2 linked regions of the Homo sapiens genome follow. The protein of the gene in region 1 interacts with the protein of each later gene in a pairwise test. Each region holds a gene or a part of one and is shown on either strand. Other genes may lie near its edges. The genes, in order: TIMM23 and SLC16A7.

Region 1 (9,632 bases):
GAGGATGTGTGCACATGCCAGAAAGAAAAAACCAAGGCAGAACCACAGTTTTCTGATTAGGAATACAATTTTCTGAATCAACGTTCAGTATTTGCCACAAGGATGTAGGAGAATGTTAATTGTCAGTGGTCTTTACTATGTTAAATGTAACACACTATGTGTCTTTTTGCCAAGGGTGTGACCTAGCCATTAGAGGCTTATTTTAACCATCTTTGGTTGGAAAGCTTGCCAAAAATGAGTGTGATTTTATTTTTTTAATCCAACATGGTGATAAAATTTTGTTTGTTTTTTTGAGTGTGTTTTTCATAAAGGTGCATTGACTCTTCAAAATTGGTAACCATATTTTGCTCTTAAGAGTGTCATTTCTCAGTCTTAGTATTTTGGATGACCTTCCAGGGGTTCATGCCACATTTTGTGTATGCAATTACTAGAAATAGGGTCTATAGCTTTCTGAGAGTATCAAAGGAATATATACTCCTTAAACAGATAAGAATTATTAAAGGGGGTCATTTGCCCTTGCATAATTGATCCAAACTGTTGTACTTTATTAGTTTTTGCTCATGTTTGTGAACATTTGGCTTTATACATAGAAAAATGCACAATAAATAGCTGCTACAGAATGAAAGTTATTTGTTTCTTCCAGACTGATTGTCTGTTCTGTTCTTCTCATAGCTTTCAGTGTTCCTTTCTCTAGAGCTGTCCTTTCTAAACACTTTTGCACAAATCTATCAGATTTACGTTTTGAAGGAAACAAAGTCTTTAATGAGACTCCCTTCTAAGAACTATGTTTCGTATTTCATTTCACTTTGATTTAGGTGTTACTGCTGCAGAAAGTTTTATTTTTGTTTAAGTATAGGTTTGAGTTAATTTAAGGTTTATTTTCTGTGAAAAACTACTTTGAAATGTTAAAAAGGCAACTTTACAAGATTTGTGTCTTGAGGGACACTCAGCTTGGTTTTCATTATTATCCTTTTAGGATACAGATGAGTTTATTTTACCTACCGGAGCTAATAAAACCCGGGGCAGATTTGAGCTGGCCTTCTTTACGATTGGAGGATGTTGCATGACAGGTGAGTGTTACATACTTTTTTCTCAAGAGTGCTCAGTTCAAGTAGTTGAGGGTGCGTAAAATCAAAAGCAATTAGAATGTTGGTTTCAGGGTTTTTTTTTTAATATTTACATTTGTCTTTTTCTATTAAATAAAAATGAAAAAGAATCAGAAGTGTAGTTATGCAGATTTGAGTTTGTTTTTTTAATATAAAGCTGTCTTTATCTGGGTGAATTGTTATGATTTACCAGGGGCTGCGTTTGGTGCAATGAATGGTCTTCGGCTAGGATTGAAGGAAACCCAGAACATGGCCTGGTCCAAACCAAGAAATGTACAGTAAGTCTCTTGTAACCATCTGATGTAGTGATACTTGAATATTAAGCTCTGTTGTATTGGTTTGATGAGTACAACCTTGAGATTACAGATGGTTAGCATAGTTATGTGCTTTTTTGTCTTTGTTTTTTAATCTTAATCAAAATAAAAGCAACTAAGGAATCAGATTACTGACTCTAAGCTTTTAAAAAGGAGTGATTTTTTTAATCAGTGTCCCTCAGTCAGCTAGTGCTATGCCAGCCTGACTTCTCAGCTGCACCTGTTACATTCTCCAACCCTATGTGACTTGCTTTTCAAATTGTTGAGTTGCTAATGGGAATTTTGGATTGTTTGGGGGCATGCAGATCCATAGGAAATGGTAATGAAGAATAAGCAGCTCATGAGAGTGATGGCTCAAGCTGCCATCATTTAACTTGAAGTTCTTACTGTCTTGACTTTATGTTTCCGAAATGATGAGCCAGATACATTTTAAATAAAATTTTTAGAATTAGAGTTAATTCCAAAAGGATAAGACACAGTTTTCTGTTAGAACTTGAAGTTACAGAGAAGGGAAAGTACAGTTAAAAGGATCGGAAAGTATGTTTTCACCCAACTTAAGAAGTAAACATGGCCAGTCCCTCTTGATATTCCTTAAACAATATGTTTAGTTTTGCCCATTTTTATGCTTCATGTAAGTGGAATCATGAGTATGTATTCTTCGATGGCTACTGTTTTGTTTTAGGACACTTTAAACTCCATCTTCCTTTCATATTGTTCAGCCAGCAGATGGCACCAGATGTGCTAGAATTAGACCATGGGAAACTGGAAGGCCTGTTAAATTGTGTGGTTTTTTGAGAGACAGGGCCTTGCTGTGTTGCCTGAGCTGGAGTGCAATGGCGCCATCACAGCTCACTGTAGCCTTGACCTCCTGGGCTCAAGTGATCCTCCCACCTCAGCCTCCCGAGTAGCTGGGACTACAGGCACATGCCACCATGCCCAGTTAATTTTTTAATTTTTTGTAGAGACGGGGTCTCACTGTATTGCTCAGGCTGTTCTCAAACTCCTGAGCTCAGGTGATCCTCTTGCCTCAGCCTTCCAAACTGCTGGGATTACAGATGTGAGCCACTGCGCCTAGCCCTGTTAAGTTTTTTATATTCCTGTTACTGTGTGGATCTCTGTCCATGCTTTACCAGCCTAGATCCTTCAATATTTTTATTACTTGTCCCTCGCTTCAATAATATTTTTAAGTTTTTGTATTATGGGGAATTTTGAATATATAAAAGTAGACAAAATACATAGCATAGTGAACACATGAACCATAACGCATCCTCAACAACCATCAACCATGGCCAGTTCTATCCCATTTCCTTCTCCTCTCCCATCTTATTTTGAGACAAAAACCCCAATATCATATTAAATACAAATTTGGAAGTAGATCTCCTAGAAAAGACAACTTGCTTCCTTTCTTAAAACAAGTTATTAAAATGCTTGTTAAAAATGAAAAAATGATGGCTGAACTTAAAATATGTTAGTAAATATGTAACATAATTAGAAACAATATACTTCTGTTTGTAAACATTACTGATTTTTTAAAACAATCTTTTAGAAAATACAAATTTTTGTTTCTGTAGAACATTAATTGAGTCGTTTAATAATTAAACTGAATGAGTTCCTTCACTCTTTGTTACTGTATTTCCATAATTTCCAGCAGTAGTCAGCTGTCTGGACAGAACCATTCCTGGGATCATGTTACACTGCTGGGAGAAGAATGTCTTCTCTTCATCCAGTTGCGTCCATCACTGTTCTGGTGGTGTCTGGCACTGGTGCAAGGCAGAACTGTGCTTCCTTGAGAGTGTGCTGAGCATTCACCTTGGCTGCTTGGTTCTAGTCTAGGAGCAGACACAGGGTGCTTTCCCCATGTATTCTAGTTAGATGGCTGATTCCTTCTCTTTAATTCTACTTTATATTCTGTACTTTGATATTCTTTACTTTATATTCTGTACTTTGATATTCTTTACTTTGATTATCTTTAACATTCTAAGCATATGTTCCCCTCCCAAAAAGAACCTTTTAGAAGCTAGCTCGCCATAGTTAACAGTGGCATTTTTTACATAGATTAGTTTCTGTAAACCTCTGTAAGATACATTCCAGGCTGTCATTCAAAGCCTTATATATATTTAATGTGTATTCATTATATTATACATTTAATAATAAGAGTTTTCCTTATTATTATTATTAAGGACTTATATAAAAGTCCTTAAGACTTTTGCCTAAAGTTTTGAAAGTTTTAACCTAATTTTCACTTATGTAGAGTAAAAACCATCCTTATTGAAATCGGAGATATTAAGATGTATTTTAGAATTTAAAAAACTTTGCGCCCTGGGTCTAGACATGTTAAATAGCCATTATTGTTTTTAAAGGTTACTAGAGAAATAATGATTCTAAATACAGATTCTTTCTCTTTCTGCCCTGATAGGATTTTGAATATGGTGACTAGGCAAGGGGCACTTTGGGCTAATACTCTAGGTTCTCTGGGTAAGTAGAGATCTCATTTGATAATAAATTGTTAAAGAAAGAATGCACAAATATCATGAACAATTTGATCAACCCATATTCTGGTCCTAGGATATGAGACAATTATGTTTAAACCCATTCCAATGCATAATGTAGATACTACTTAGGGAAAGACCATGAACTAACTTATGAAATAATCTCAGGTGCTAATACCGTTCTGAATACCATTGCTGAATTTTTAAAATCTTTTGGACACTGCACACTCTCCTTTCCAAGCACAACACCCAATAAAATCATGTTTAAATGAAATCCAGGTAATTTAGGTCCAAAGTAAAGAGCTTTGTATGTTAGGCAAGGTTCAAGGTCCTGTAGTGATACATGATAAATTAATCCAGCCCTCTTGCTATGTTTTCTTAATAGCCGGTTCATTAGTCTGTTTACCTGAGTAGATTTCAGGCACCTAATTGCCACAATTGGAATAGGTTCCTTGTAGATAATGAAAACGTTTGCAGTTCTAGGCAAAAGGTAACTTAGTAGTGCTTAGTCAGAGCCTTATGCTTTCATACCATATTGTTTATGAATGATTGATCACTTACAATAGATCTCTTATGGCTTATGTCCTGACATCCAAAATTTTCCTACTGTATGAACTTAGTTGAAAATCTCAATTTAAATTGTGGCAGATTAAGGAGGGGAAGACATAGAAAACTCATTGAAAACATAGAAAAAGCGTTTGTTATGGCAGGGTAAGGTCCTGCCTTGTCACAGAATTTGGAAGCAGTACATCTTCACACTGTAAAGCTAGTTTTCACACTTTGGATCCTAAGAGATGGCTGCTTTCATATGTTGCTGATGTCTGCATTCCTCCCACCCTCCTACAGAGTCACCCCGCTCTGTTTCTTTTAATTGCTTGTATACCTAGAGTAGTCAGCTGTCCTTGTCTGCGTAGGACTGTCAGAGAAAAGTCCAAGAAACTATGTTCCAATAATCACCCCCCGCCCACCCCGCCCCACAGTCCTGGACAAACTAGAATGGCTGGTCACCCTCTGTGTACCCATTGTGGTATGATCAAGAAGGGTGTTCTGCTCGTGATCAGTTTCAGTTAAATAAGTTGAAGAGGAAGATGAGCTTTCATAGAAGTATAAAAATACTGCAGTAGAGGAGTTGTAAGGCTGAGCGCGGTGTATTGTTGCAAGGGGCAAGTGTAGCTATAATTTTGAGAAAGAGTTTAAAAGTTTAACATTCGTTCCAGATAGGAATCTGCAAGAGCATAGAAGGATGGCTTGGGGGAAGATACTTTAAAATGAAATGGTGCTAGTGTTATAATACGTGAGAATCAAACCTCACTTTTTTTTTAATCTATTTTTTCTTATACTAGAAATACGTGTGTGTGTGTGTGTGTGTATGTGTGTGTCTTTAATCTGAAGTATAGCAATTATGGGTAGCATATAAATGAAAATTTTAAATATTCTTCCTGAGACTTCCTAGCGGTACTTTCTAGAAATAGCTACTATTGATGTTTCTTCTGAATTCTTCCAGGCGTTTCTCTGCATAGCCAGTCAGTCGTGTACCATGTGCACATGTCCCTGATTTACTTATTAGTGAAAATGATTCTTCTGGTTTTTAAGTGACTGTATAGTATTCCATTATATGAAAAGTCCCTCTCTGGATCAATTCAGATGGTACAAATGCTCTTGATGGGCATTTTATTTGTTGCCAGGTGTTTGCTATTAGAAACTGTTCTAGTGATCATTCCATGTATATCTTTGGATAAATTTTTCTAAATATAATTGCCATACTGACTTTTGTGTTGAAAAAAAAAAAACAGTTTTTCCTCTGCTCTCACACTACAACAGTCAACATAGGATAGTTCTGTGACCAGTTATGTGGGAATATTTCCCCACATACCAAGTAATCTCTCTTGCAGTGGACACCAGTTGGGTGTCCACCTGTTTCACTTCTGCCTGGAGATAGCATTAGATCAGCAGGTTGAGCACTCTGTCCCACAAAACTGAGCCCCACTTTGGATACTTCTGATGCTGATAGCAAGCTCCAGGTTATTTTACCTGTGCTTCTGACCAACCAGCTTTGTCAGGGTTTCCCACAACCCACTCTTTGGGTTTGATTAATTTATTGGATTGGCTCACAGAACTCGAGGGAACACATACTTAACATTTGCGTATTTATTATAAAGATTTTTTTTTTTTTTTTTTTTTTTTTGAGACAGGGTCTTGCTCTGTCACCCATGCTAGAGTGCAGTGGAGCTCACTGCAACCTAGACTTCTGGGCTTAAGCAAGCCTCCCACCTCAGCCTTTCAAGGAGCTGGGACTACAGGCAACATGCACCACCATACCAACTAATTTTTTTTTAAATTTTTTTAGAGAAGGGGGTATCCCTATGTTGTTGCCCAAACTGGTCTCTGACTCCTGGGCTCATGTGATCTTCCCACCTCGGCCTCCCAAAGTGCTGGGATTACAGAAACTTTGTGAGCCACCACACCTGGCTGGATATTTTTAAAGGATACAAATAGCCCAGTCAAGGAATACATAAGGTGAGGCCTGGATGGGCCCTGAGTGCAGGAGCTTTCATTTCACTGGAGTTGGGGTGCACTAGCCTCCTGACACGTGGGTGAGTTCTTTCTCACTTTCCTGCAAGTCCCATGAGTTCAGCTGTCCAGAAAGTCCTCCGACCCCATCCACTTGGGCCTCATGTGGAAAATTGATTGGATAGGCATGACTGAAGCATGGACAACCTTATAGAACTGTGATTGGACAAAAAGGGCATGCTCTACTACTAATAGACTGGGCACAGAAACCCAGCAAGGCCTGCCTGCCCAGATTCTCCCTTGGCCTTTCTGTGCAGCATTTCTTCTTCCTGGGTATGGGGTACGATCTTTTCTGAAATGGGGGTCTTACAGCCTGCAATCAGACAAGGTAGGTCATAGAATTTCTTTATGGCCAGTTCCAAGACAGAAAGGTGTGGGGAAAGATTAGAGTCCTGCTGTGGGGAGAAAAGGGAGTAGGTGAAAGGAGGGCAGGAGAAGGTCAGAGAGAGAGATTCTGTTTCTGAGGCTGCTTCTGAGGCCTGAAGTGCCCCAGTAATACAACAAAAGACCTTCACCTTTGTCCCTCTGAAGCTGTTCCAAAGCTGATTCCAGAACCAAGGACAAATACCTTAACAAGTGATTGTTTTAGTCACTTAGGAAGGGCTATGGGAGTTATGAGCTAGGAACCATGGATGAAAACCAATATATGTATATCATAATATCACACTTTATCACTGTTTTGTCACTGAGCACTTCCATTTCCTCTTTAGCTTTGCTCTATAGTGCATTTGGTGTCATCATTGAGAAAACACGAGGTGCAGAAGATGACCTTAACACAGTAGCAGCTGGAACCATGACAGGCATGTTGTATAAATGTACAGGTGAGTACTGTTGAATGGGGAGCCATCTCTTAATACACTTGAAGTGCGCTTTTTAAAATTCATGGTTTTCAAGGAAATTACACTCTGTTGCAGTATAATCTAGTGTTCTAACTTTATGGTTATTTTGGTTTGGTTTGGTTTTTAATTGTGGTAAAATAAACATAAGATTTACCCATCTTAACCATTTTTAAGTATACAGTACATTAGTATTATAGTCACATGATTATATAACCAATCTCTGGAACTTTTTCATCTTGCAAAACTGATACTCTGTACCTATTAAGCCTCCCAATTTACCACTTCCTTAGCTCTTGATAATGTTACACTTTCTGTCTCTGAATTGGCTGCTTTAGGCACCTCATATAAGTAGAATCATACAATATTTGTCCTTTTTTGATTGGCTTATTTTACGTAGCATAATATCCTCAAGGTTCATCCATGTTGTTGCATGTGCCAGAATTCCCTTCCTTTTTAAAGCTAAATAATATTCATTCTGTGTATGTATACCACATTTTGCATGTGCGTTCTTTTATCAAGGAATATTTGGGTTGCTTCTACCTTTTGGCTATTGTGAATAATGCTGCTACGAATATGGATGTACAAATATCTCTTCAAGGTCCTTCTTTCTTTTTTTGGATATATGTGCAGAAGTGGAATTCTTGGATCATATGGTTTATGGTGGTTTTTTGACATTAAGAATATAAGATTCTTTTCTGTATTTTTCATTCATTTTAGTTTAGTTTTTTTAATCTTGGACAGACTAAGCAATAGAATATTCAGAATTGTTGGTTTTGTTTTAAACAATAGTTTGACCTGTGACATCAGCATATTAAACTATCACAAGACACACACAAGGTCAAAGCCCAGGAATGGCTTCCCTGTAAGTCAATTTAGAGCATCTTATTCCTATGATCATCTTACTCTACTGGGAGATCAACGTGTTGCTGTCAAGGGTCAGATAATTCTCTTCTGTGATAAGTTTTACTAGTTTAGAAGCATACATTCAAGTAATGCCTAATTTAGCTTTTTTATTGTGTTGATACATCTTTGGCTACTTAATTTTTATTTTTATCAAAATAATCCACATACGTGATTTTTTAAGTCAAGGTTTTTATCTTAACATCTAAAAGATTTTAATGATGTTTAATCCACATACATGATTTTTTAAGTCAAGGTTTTTATCTTTTTAACATCTAAAAGATTTTAGTGATGTGCAACAGTGTTCTATACGTCTCACCTTAATTCCCTTTTCCCAAAGGCAACTTTTAATTTTTTTTTTTTTTTTTTTCTTTTTTGAGACGGAGTCTAGGTGTCACCCAGGCTGGAGTGCAGTGGCATGATCTCAGCTCACTGCAACCTCCACCTCCTGGGATCAAGCAGTTCTCCCATCTCAGCTTCCTGAGTAGCTGGGACTGGAGGCACATACCATCACATCTGGCTAATTCTTGTATTTTTAGTAGAGACAGGGTTTCACCATATTGGTCAGGCTGGTCTCAAACTCCTGACCTCAGGTGTTCCACCCTCCTCAGCCTCCCAAGTGCTAGGATTACAGGCGTGAGCCACCACTCCCAGCTTATTTTAATTTTTTTTTTAAGACAGAGTCTCACTCTGTCATCCAGGCTGGAGTGCAGTGGCACAATCAAGGCTCACTGTAGCCTTGACCTCCTGGGCTCAGGTGATCCATCTCAGCCTCCTGAGTAGCTGGGACTACAGGCACACGCCTCCACACCCAGCTAATTATTTTTTTTTTTCTTTATCGGAGATGGGGTCTCACTGTGTTGCCCAAGCTGGTCTTGAACTCCTGGGCTCAAGCAGTCATCCTGCCTCAGCCTCCCAAAGTGCTAGGATTGCAGATGTGAGCTACCATGCCTAGGCTGCTTTAATTCATTATTTTTTATTTTCATGTTTTTAAATAATATTATTATCTTGATTTTTCTTGACTTTTCAGTCTTACATATTGTCTGTTGACTTCCAAGAGGAAAGCTGTGTTAACTCCGCTAAGAATTGTACAAAATACGCTTAAAGTAGAAAGGAGGTCACATCCTTTATATAGGTCAGCTCATTTACCATTCTCTGAAGGTAGTAGACTGGTACTCCCTTGTTTTATAGACAAACTAAAATTCAGACAAGTTAAATTACCTCCACATGCTCACACAGCTCTGTCACGGTCTAGTGCATCAAACTCTAGTCTGAGTCCAAAGCCCGTTGTCTTTCTCACCAAACCAAATTACCTCCAGGATAGAGAAATCAGGAAAATTTCTAGAAAAGGGAAAGAAGTAATAAATAACAGTTGAGCCAGACCTTAAGAATGGACTGAATTTTCTGATGTAT
Region 2 (9,482 bases), on another chromosome or scaffold:
AGAAAAACACTACATAAATATTTTCTTCATTAGTTATGATTATGCATAAATTCTGTGGATCTTTGCACCCTTGAAGTGCTCGCAAGTATCATTGAATTGTAGAAAGTGAAGCTATTAATAATTATTAAGATCTTAAAGTAAAAACATATGACTCAGAGAGGTTAAGGAACCCAGCAAAGATCAACTGTACAGAAAAAGGCACTAAAGCCTTAGCTTCTTGATAACACATTCAGTCATCATTGATTCATTTCATAAAATATATTAATACTCATTAGCCACCGTTTACAAGATTTCTGCCTGAAAAGTTTACAGTCTATGATGATAACTTTTAATTTAAGTTTCTAATCTTATATGCATTCAAAATAATCAGAATATTTACGTGGTAAAGCATCTATAAAACACCCAGAATCCATTAAGTTTAGTTTACAGATAATAATTGATAAAATGTAAATTTAGAAAAATACCCCAACAAACAAGTTTTTTAATACATAATCCGTTAAGAGATTTTTGGAGCCAAAAAACCCATTTTGTTTTAAACCAAAGATTCTTGTGTGCTATTATTTAAAGGCATACCATACAGCAATGCCAATGCAATTGATTCCCCTTTTATATGCTTTGTTGAATCGGACTAGATTGTCATTCCCCAAAATCCTATGGGAGTTTTTCATAGAAGATATTTCCAAAGTAGCCTATATAGATATACGCAAGATTTAAATCTAGAAGTAGTGGAGATATATTTCTATAGTTTGTATAATCTGTGAAACCAGGTCACAGCAATCATATTCACAGCTGCTAGCCAGCTACAATCTCAACCATAGTATGTTGCCACTTGAAGGCAGGTGTACATTTGTTTTCACCCAAGTTGAGGGGAGCATTGGGACATCTGGTCTTTTGTACTTAGCTATAACAAATCTATTGTGTGTAGTTTATAAACACACACACCCTTAATTTAATCTCACAGTCTTACTCTGAAAAGGCTATTATATGAATTTTGGGGTCATGAGACTATATTTTTAGTTTTGACTTAAGGACACATTAGTGCACTTTCAAAAGTTCAATGTTTCATTGGGGATTTTATGCCTTTATGATTTACAATTTCTTTTTTCGAGACGGAATTTTGCTCTTGCTGCCCAGGCTGGAGTGCAGTGTTGCGATCTTGGCTCACTGCAACCTCTGCCTCCCGGATTCAAGCGATTCTTCTGCCTCAGCCTCCCGAAGTACCTGGGATTACAGGTGCCCACCACCTCACCTGGCTAATTTTTTTTTTTTTTTTTTGTATTTTTAGTTGAGATGGGTTTTCACCATGTTGGCTAGGCTAGTCTTGAACTTCTGACCTCAGGTGATCTACCTGCCTTGGCCTCCCAAAGTGCTGGGATTACAAGCATGAGCCACCACGCCTGGCTGACTTATTGTCTTTTTCAGTAATATCTTATATTGGTCAGAATAGGCTAGGTTTTGTTCCCATGACAAATAGAGCCTGAAATTTCCAAGGCTTAAAACAATGGTCTCTTGCTCACACAAAGTACAGTGCAATTCAAGCAGTCTTTCTTTCTTTTTCAGAGATTCCATTTTGTAGCTAGTTCATCAGAAACATGGTACTATGGCAGGGAAAGGGAGTGATGAAGGAGGTACACTGGGTCTTAACTCCCTTTACCAGAAATTACACATGTCACTTCCATTCATACTGTTTTAGAACTACATAGTTGCATGGTCCCAATATAACTGTAAGGAAAGCCAGGAAGTGTGGAGCCAGGCAGATCATAGATATTGTGAGCACCAATAGCTTCTACCACATATCTGTTGCCTACAGCCACACTGTCATCTCTTTTCTTCATTTGGCAAACGTTACTATTTTCTATCTGCAACGATTTGTGCTGCATGATAGATGATTCTGTTACCCGAAAGGGGTACTGATTCAGACCCCAAGAGAGGGTTCTTGGATTTCATGCAAGAAATAATTTGGGATGAGTCTATAAATGAAAGCAGGAGTACTAGGAAAGTAAAGGAACAAAAAAATGGCTACACCATAGGCAGAGTAGCAGCATGGGCTGCTCCGCTGCTTATACTTATTATTACCTCTTGATTATATGTTAACAAGAGATGGATTATTCATGAGTTTTCTGGGAAAGGGGTGGGAAATTCTGGGAACTGAGGGTTTCTCCCCATTTTAGACCATATGGGGTAACTTCCTGACCTTACCATGGCATTTGTAAACTGTCATGGCACTGGTGGGAATGTCTTTTAGCATGCTAATGCATTGTAATTAGCACATAATGAGGAGTGAGGAGGACCAGAGGTCACTTTCGTCTCCATTTTGGTTTTGGTGGGTTTTAGCTGGCTTCTTTACTGCCGCCTGTTTTATCAGCATGGTCTTTATGACCTGTATCTTGTGCCAACCTCCTATCTTATTCTGTGACTAAGAATGCCTTAATCTCCTGGGAATGCAGCCCAATAAGTCTCAGCCTCATTTTACCCAGGCCTTACTCAAGATGGAGTCACTCTGGTTCAAATGCCTGTGACAATCCCAGAGATGAATAAAATGTCATCTCTACTTTCAAATAGCCTAATATATTGGGGCTACAGAAACAAAAATCATATTATAATATAGTCATATGTGAAGCTGAAACAAAATGCCCCAGATAGAGGCCTAAATCATTTTCTATGGGCAGGATCACAGAGAAAGATGAACTTAACCCTTATTTGTTAACAAAGAATCCTTAAAATGCTATAGAAGTGATGATATATTTGCTGGGCATTAAAGGAGGAAAAAAGGTTTAGACAAGTTTGATATGGAAAAGAGGGCAGTGAATGATAAAAGACAGAAAAATGTGAGAAGATTGTGTATGACTGAGGAATGAAGAAGGGAGAAAGAACCTAAACCACAAGGATGTGGGTATATAGTAAAAGACATGTGGACTTCATGAGTATATATGTGATGTACGTATTCACAGTTTGCTCATCTGTGGAATATGAGTTGCTAGAATGCTAAGTGTATTGCTATTTGTTTTTCCCACTGTTATTTCAGCTTATGAATATAAATCAAGGCAAACATTTTACCAGAGCATTCCAAGTTCTAATCATATGGCTTATTTTTTCCCTAAATTGTATTTTTTTCTCAATTTCTTAACAATATTAAACTGTAAGTCATAGGATAAACTGGCTGAATTTATTCTTAGCTGATTCTCCCTCCTTTCAGATACCTTTCTAGTCCAATCAAATTTTACATAACATACCTAGCTATCACAACAAAGCAATTTAGAAATGAGTTCCCAAATACTAACTCTGTGACAGTAGGTAAATTAGATCCAGAGTTTTAATTGTTGAAAAAACAAGACTTAAAAAGAAGGTTACGATATCATGCTATAAGTAGTGATGTTTGGCATTCAGCAATAGGTTAAACAGGTCAAGAACATGGGACTATAAGAAAAAAACAACAAAAAAGAAAAATCAAAGAGAAGGAAAAGGGAGAATAGGATCAAAATTCAGAAAGCATATGGTCTTTCTTCTTCCTCTTCTTTGACAGGAAATAAAAGTGATGAATGAGCAGGAAAAATATCAATAGCAAACACTCAAGACTATGACCTTGAAATGTGCCTTTATGTTGTTTCTTTTAAATGTTTAACTTTTTTTAATTAAATGAAGTGTTTATAGTCACTGCTAGACATTTCATCATTATCAAAGGCCTATTATGTCTTATACAAATGTCTATTTAAGCATTTTTAGCTTAAAAATATAAAATCCTTTCTGTAATTTTCTGCCTTTTTTTCATTTTCAAATATCATTCTTTCAATAAAATTATCTTCCAGTAATTTTGATGTTATTAATCACGATTATTTTTTCATCTTGTATTATGCCTACCAGCCACTTCATGTATATTATTTCACTTAAATCTTATGAAATCAACACGATTGATATTACTTTTATTTCATAGCTACAGAAATTGAAATTCAAATTTCGTCCATTACAACAGACTAGCTGTGGCAAAGACAATGTGAATTTACCCAAATGACTTAACTCTTTTTATAAATTCGTAAAATGTGAAGAATCATAGAACACACCTTAAAATGATTGTGAAATCAAGGAGGAGAAAGCTAGCTAAACTGGTAGACAAACTGCAATAGGACTTGTCAAGCCAAAACCTACAATTATTCTTTTGGATAGTTTCTTTTTCTCTAAAGTGGCAATTTAACTTAAAGATATTAAAGAAACCCAATCTATGGGGTTACTTAAATGTTCTCTTCCAGCCCTTCCTCTTTCCAGTTTTACCAAGAAGCACATTTTAGACAGGGGAAGAGACCAAACCAATGACAGCAGAATTACCATTATCTCTAGCACTATTCGTTGTCAAATAACTAAATGCTGGTTTGAAGAACTAAGTAATTTGAGAAATTAAAAATGAAAGGAATTATAAATGATTTGAAAAAAAATCCTTCTTATTTTTAATGTTTTTTGGTGCTGTTTTCTATGTCCTTCCTCCTATGGTGTCAATTATATTTTTTTCCGTGAAGTGATTTGGTTGGTGAGTCTAATCTCCAACAGTGCCCTACCTCTTTCTCCCAAAAAGGCCTCAGTTGAAAAATGGCTCAACACTTTCCCTGCAAGCTCACAATGAGGATCTCCTATTCTCCCTGCATTCGGCCAGACTCTTCTTTTTTTGCATGCTTTCCTCTCCCATGCTTGGGTTGCACAGAGCTACCGCACATCTGTCTTCTAGGTCAGGCTACAGAGTACTTCGGATACAGCAAGTTACGACCCATCTGGAAAGACAGATCTACCTGCCTTTTGGCTTTCTTCCTTGGTCAAAACTAAAATCCGAAGTGGAGTGCCCCGAGCGATAGAGAAAGTGCCTATAGCTTTGACAGCCGCTTGGAGCATGCTCAGTCGGTCTCCAGGCACCGGGAGGCGGCTCCCCCCCACCACCCCCCGGGCCGGCCTCCACCGCAGCCTGTCCGGCCCCCACCCCTGGCGCGCGCTCCTCCGCACCCACAAGGGCGTTCAGCAGCCGCGCCTCCCCTTCCCGCCACCGCCTCCTTCTCCGCTGGCTGTGGCGGGCGAGGACACGTCAGGGGCCATAAATAAATAAATAATTCCATTCACCCGTTGACAGCGAGGCGAATCGGCTGCGGTTTGCTGGGAACGGAGGGCTGCAGCGCCCACCCTGCGCCAGAGACCAGATAAAGTAAGTACAGCTGGGGAGGGAGGGGAGAGGAGGAGGAGGAGGAGGAGGTGCCGGCTAAGAGGAGGGCGAGCCTGCGTCTGCGACCCGAGCTGCCCGCGGAGCCGCACGCGTGTGTGCAAATAATGGCCAGCCTGTGACAAACGTGCCAACGCAGAGTTGGCCAGCGAGCCCTTATATAGACAAAAAAATCCCGAAGCGGCCGCGGGAGCAGAGCTCGCGTCAGCCAGTGCGCGCCGACAGCTGCCCGGGAACTGAGGGGGCGCGCGGGGTCCTGGGCAAGGAGCGCCTCGCGTGCTTTCGGCCAGGAGGTGCTCACGCTCTCGGCTTTTACACCGAGACTCAGCGTGGCGCGGTGCACCCCAGTCTCCCTGGCTCACGGGACTCCGAGGGCTGCTTCCAGTGCGGCGTGTCTCTAGTGCGCGCCCCGCCAGCATCCGGCCCCCGAGCCCCCTAGGGTGGCGTGGCTTCATTGCCGCAGAAGGTGGAGGCGGGGGTGGAGTGTGTGGAGAGAACGTCTTCTCTTTGAGCAGATGATCAGGACAGGAAGAGGCTGTGAGGGGAAGACGAAATACCGGGGGATGGGGGGGTTGTCTTTCTTCATTTTTGGTCCCCAGGAAGGATGGCAGGGGTGGAAGCAGATGGAAAACTATATGCGGGCGAGGCCTGAGCCCAGGCAGAAAGGGACCTCTGACTTGGCAAGGGTTCAGGAGGGCCTGAGCCTTCTGGTCTTGCTGGGCCACTGCACCACATTGGGGGCGCCAGGCCCGGTCAGGTGGCGCCACAGGCTGCGAGCCCGCTCACGTGCGAACTGCCTGTTTTCTCAGCGGATGCTGCATCGCGGCGCCCTTCTCCACCCCCTTTTCTCCTCTACTTCCGCGAAAAGGATTGCAGACTGCCTTGGAAAGGGCGGTCGTGCCCAGTGCCACTTTCCCGGTAGGGCTGAGGAGGGACTTCTGTAGTTCCAATTCCAGGGAAATTAAAATTTTACACACACACACACACACACACACACACACACACACACACACACACACGAGACATAGAAGAGGAAACGAGGAGTGGTTTCTCTACAATTGTTTTTTGATTTCCTTTCCTGTATTATTTCGTGTCCTCCTTCCCTCTTGGGTCCCAAAGGAGATGCGGCAGAGGAATAAAATAGCGGACAATGATGAAAGTGATGGGAAAAAGACTGGACCCAGAGGAAAGAGTGACTACTGGATGCCATTTCCTGTCACCCCATGCTTCATGGCTAACCCCAGTCTGAACTCAGAGGGTTGCAAACTTTCCACAGACAGGTTAGCTTGAATGTGTTGTGTTACTGGAACCACAAGCACTAAGTATGCATTTGGTGGAGTGTGGCTGAAAAATGAGAGTTGGGTGGGGACAGCAGAGGGCAAATGAGGGTTGAGCAAAGTGACTAATATTTAGCTCTGGTGAAGCAATCCTAACTCCAGGTTCTACTTCTGACTGAGCAGATTACATTTAAAGCAATCCAAGTGAGGGACTGAATGATCTCAGTGGAAAGGAAAGATTACAACCGTAAGAAACTCAGTGTATTGTGTAACAACTTACAAACTCAGAAACTATTTTTTGCAAATACAACAACAGTTTGCAGTTACATATTACTTTTTTCCCCCCAAGGCATGTTTGAATAATAAGTGATCTGAAATTTTAACATCTGTTTCCCGATGTTCAAATTAGTGTATCCTTCTATAAATGCTCAGTTTATTTCTAGACATTCATTTGCTCTTTGATAATGTCTGGCTTATATTTTTGGCTTTGAGCTCTTTTAAAGGGAAGGAGAGCAACATTACCTAAATAAACCTCCCTTGTCTGGAGTCATATTCCTGGATCACGGATCTGAAATAAAAGGCATCTCCAGAATTTGCTTTTAATTCTGTATTCATCCACCAAACATTTTTGAGACATTCACATGGAAAAAGGGAATTAACTTTAGAACAGATTGGTTCTGCACTTTTGTAAGGTTGAGTAATTGTTTAACAATCTGGGCTTTACCTTTTTCTTGTCTATAAAATGAGATTGGTGGTACCCACTCTGAAGTGATATTGGGAAGAATGAAGTGTGTGGTAAGTACCTAGAATACAGACGGGCTATATTTGAGCCCCTATAATCAGTCTAGACACCCTACCAGGGTTGCCAAGATGAATGAGGCTGTAATTCTGCTTTCAAGAAGTTCTCATATAGTCAGTCATTCAGGTTAATCTTTCTTGTATCCCATTTGCCTTTTAGTCCATTTTTTTTCTCCTCTTGATGGAAGAAACATATATCCAAGTAACTTGAAAGGAACTCCACAGTTGTAAGAAATGTTGGTAAGATCTGCTAAAAGGCAAATTTGAGAAGAATGTCTTTTCTCAGGAACCTGTATTCAGCCCATTTTTTGTCCATTAATAGTGATCCTTAATGAATAAAAACAGGTAATGAAGGATTTTTCTTCATGTTATGAGGGCAGGATGATCCTTCTCTGAAGATTATCTTTGTCAATGAATTGATTTCCATTATTTGAGAGAAGAGTTTGAGTTGCAGTTTCTACTACACCTTGGGCAAACCAATCCACTCACTCCTAAGAGTATAAAGTAACTGTAGTATATAATAACTATAATGACAACTCTGTAATGCTCACCATATTCCAGGCACTGTGCTACTACTGTCTGATAGCATGTAGCAACCATTTGAGGTGGATCTGTCCATATCCATATTTACAGAAAAAAGAATTTATGCCCAGAAAGTTTCATAGCTTATTCAGCTGGTACAGTTAGTAAGTGGTTGAGCTGGGGCAAGCACCGATGCGATCTGTTTGGCTTTAACCACTGTGTCATATAGCTTCTGCCTTGCATGAAGCTAAATAAGAGCAAAGACCTTACCTGTTGTTTTCTCCATAGCCCAGTACAGTGTCTGGCATGTCATGGTTCAGAACAACTGATTATAGAAAGAAGGAAAGAGGGAGGGAAGCAGAACTAGAGGGAAGGAGGAAGAGGAGGAAATAAAAATTAGCAAGTCCAAGTGTCTCCCGCCTTCAACACTGAATCTGGCAGGAAATCCAGCATGAACTCTGCCCTGAGAACACAATAGTTGAGGCTCTTTTGAGGATTCCTTTTCCTTGTCTTGCATCTAATCATCTAGTTTATGATGCTCATTTATGCAGAATAGGAAAATATTCTCTTTGGTTTGACAAATTAGCAAAAGGTGCCCATGAAGTGCAAACATCAAAGAGTGACCTACTCAAGGTGGACCAGGAAAAAAAAAGAAGGAAGAAATTAAAAGGGCAGACCATAATGCAGGGGCACTGGATTTAAATTTTAGTTAAGCCACTGGCTGGCTTTGTCTTATGCAATGTTGTGGTAGTACTTGTATTGTTGTTCTGAACACCAAAGACGATAACAAATATAAGCTGTTTTATACTGTGCCTGATAAATAGAATGGCATGCGGCAAAGAATAATTACATTCTGTTATTGCCCTTTGTTCCCCTCCTCCCTTCAACTCATCCCAAATAAAAAGTACCCTCCTGTTTTCCACATCTTGAAGTAATCTGTGTTCATCTGAACTACTTCGTAACTTGATCTGGGCTTCTCTTAGGCTGATTCTTATATTTTACCTTGAATTACAATTATTTGGGAAGGCATCCTATCTCTCTTCCTGGGCTACATGGTCTTTGAGAGTAGATGGTATATCTGATTCATCTTGGAACCTCTGTGGAGCTGCTGCTTGGGACAGGACAGGGCAGACGAGGGGCTCTGAAGTCCAGCCTGTCTGGGTTTTGATTTTAGCTTTGCCACTTATCAACAAAGACAAGTTGCTAGACCTCTTTAAGTCTCGGTTTCTTCATGTGTAAAAATAGAATAGTAACCAATTTTGTATATTGGTTGTAAACATTAAATGAGATAATATCTGTGAAATAGCACTGTGCTGAGCACATACATAGAAATAACTCAATAACTACTTTTAGGTATTAAATATTTGGCTTTATGTTTTTTAGTTTATCATAAGCATCACTGGCTTATTTTTAACAGATTTTTGGGAACTCTGAAATGCCAAACTTGCCATTAGATGGCACAACAAAGTTGAATTGCATAATAAACCATTAAGTGGACTCCCTTTGAGAAGTCATCCTGGTTTGTCACAGGCTTTCTCAAAACTGTTTGGATCAAAGTGATTAAGAAATATCTTGGGAAACATCTGCACACTAGCTCTCAGTGAATAATGGAACTTTTTTTTTTTTTTAACTTGTGAGAAAGCTTCATTTTCTCAGTTGCTGCTATAAATGGTGAATCCAGGGGCTGAGTC

The links.
Region 2: the proteins of TIMM23 (region 1) and SLC16A7 interact in binary tests that used the Homo sapiens proteins (3 or more experiments, as listed by UniProt).

What each region holds. Positions count from the first base shown.
Region 1 is NC_000010.11:45,981,547-45,991,178, forward strand, and holds part of TIMM23 (mitochondrial import inner membrane translocase subunit Tim23), read left to right. Parts: intron 1-976; coding exon 977-1,070; intron 1,071-1,299; coding exon 1,300-1,384; intron 1,385-3,061; exon of another isoform or gene 3,062-3,265; intron 3,266-3,836; coding exon 3,837-3,895; intron 3,896-7,190; coding exon 7,191-7,301; intron 7,302-9,632. UniProt on the Homo sapiens protein: Essential component of the TIM23 complex, a complex that mediates the translocation of transit peptide-containing proteins across the mitochondrial inner membrane.
Region 2 is NC_000012.12:59,591,058-59,600,539, forward strand, and holds the start of SLC16A7 (monocarboxylate transporter 2), read left to right. Parts: upstream 1-4,971; 5' UTR 4,972-5,179; intron 5,180-9,482. UniProt on the Homo sapiens protein: Proton-coupled monocarboxylate symporter. Catalyzes the rapid transport across the plasma membrane of monocarboxylates such as L-lactate, pyruvate and ketone bodies, acetoacetate, beta-hydroxybutyrate and acetate.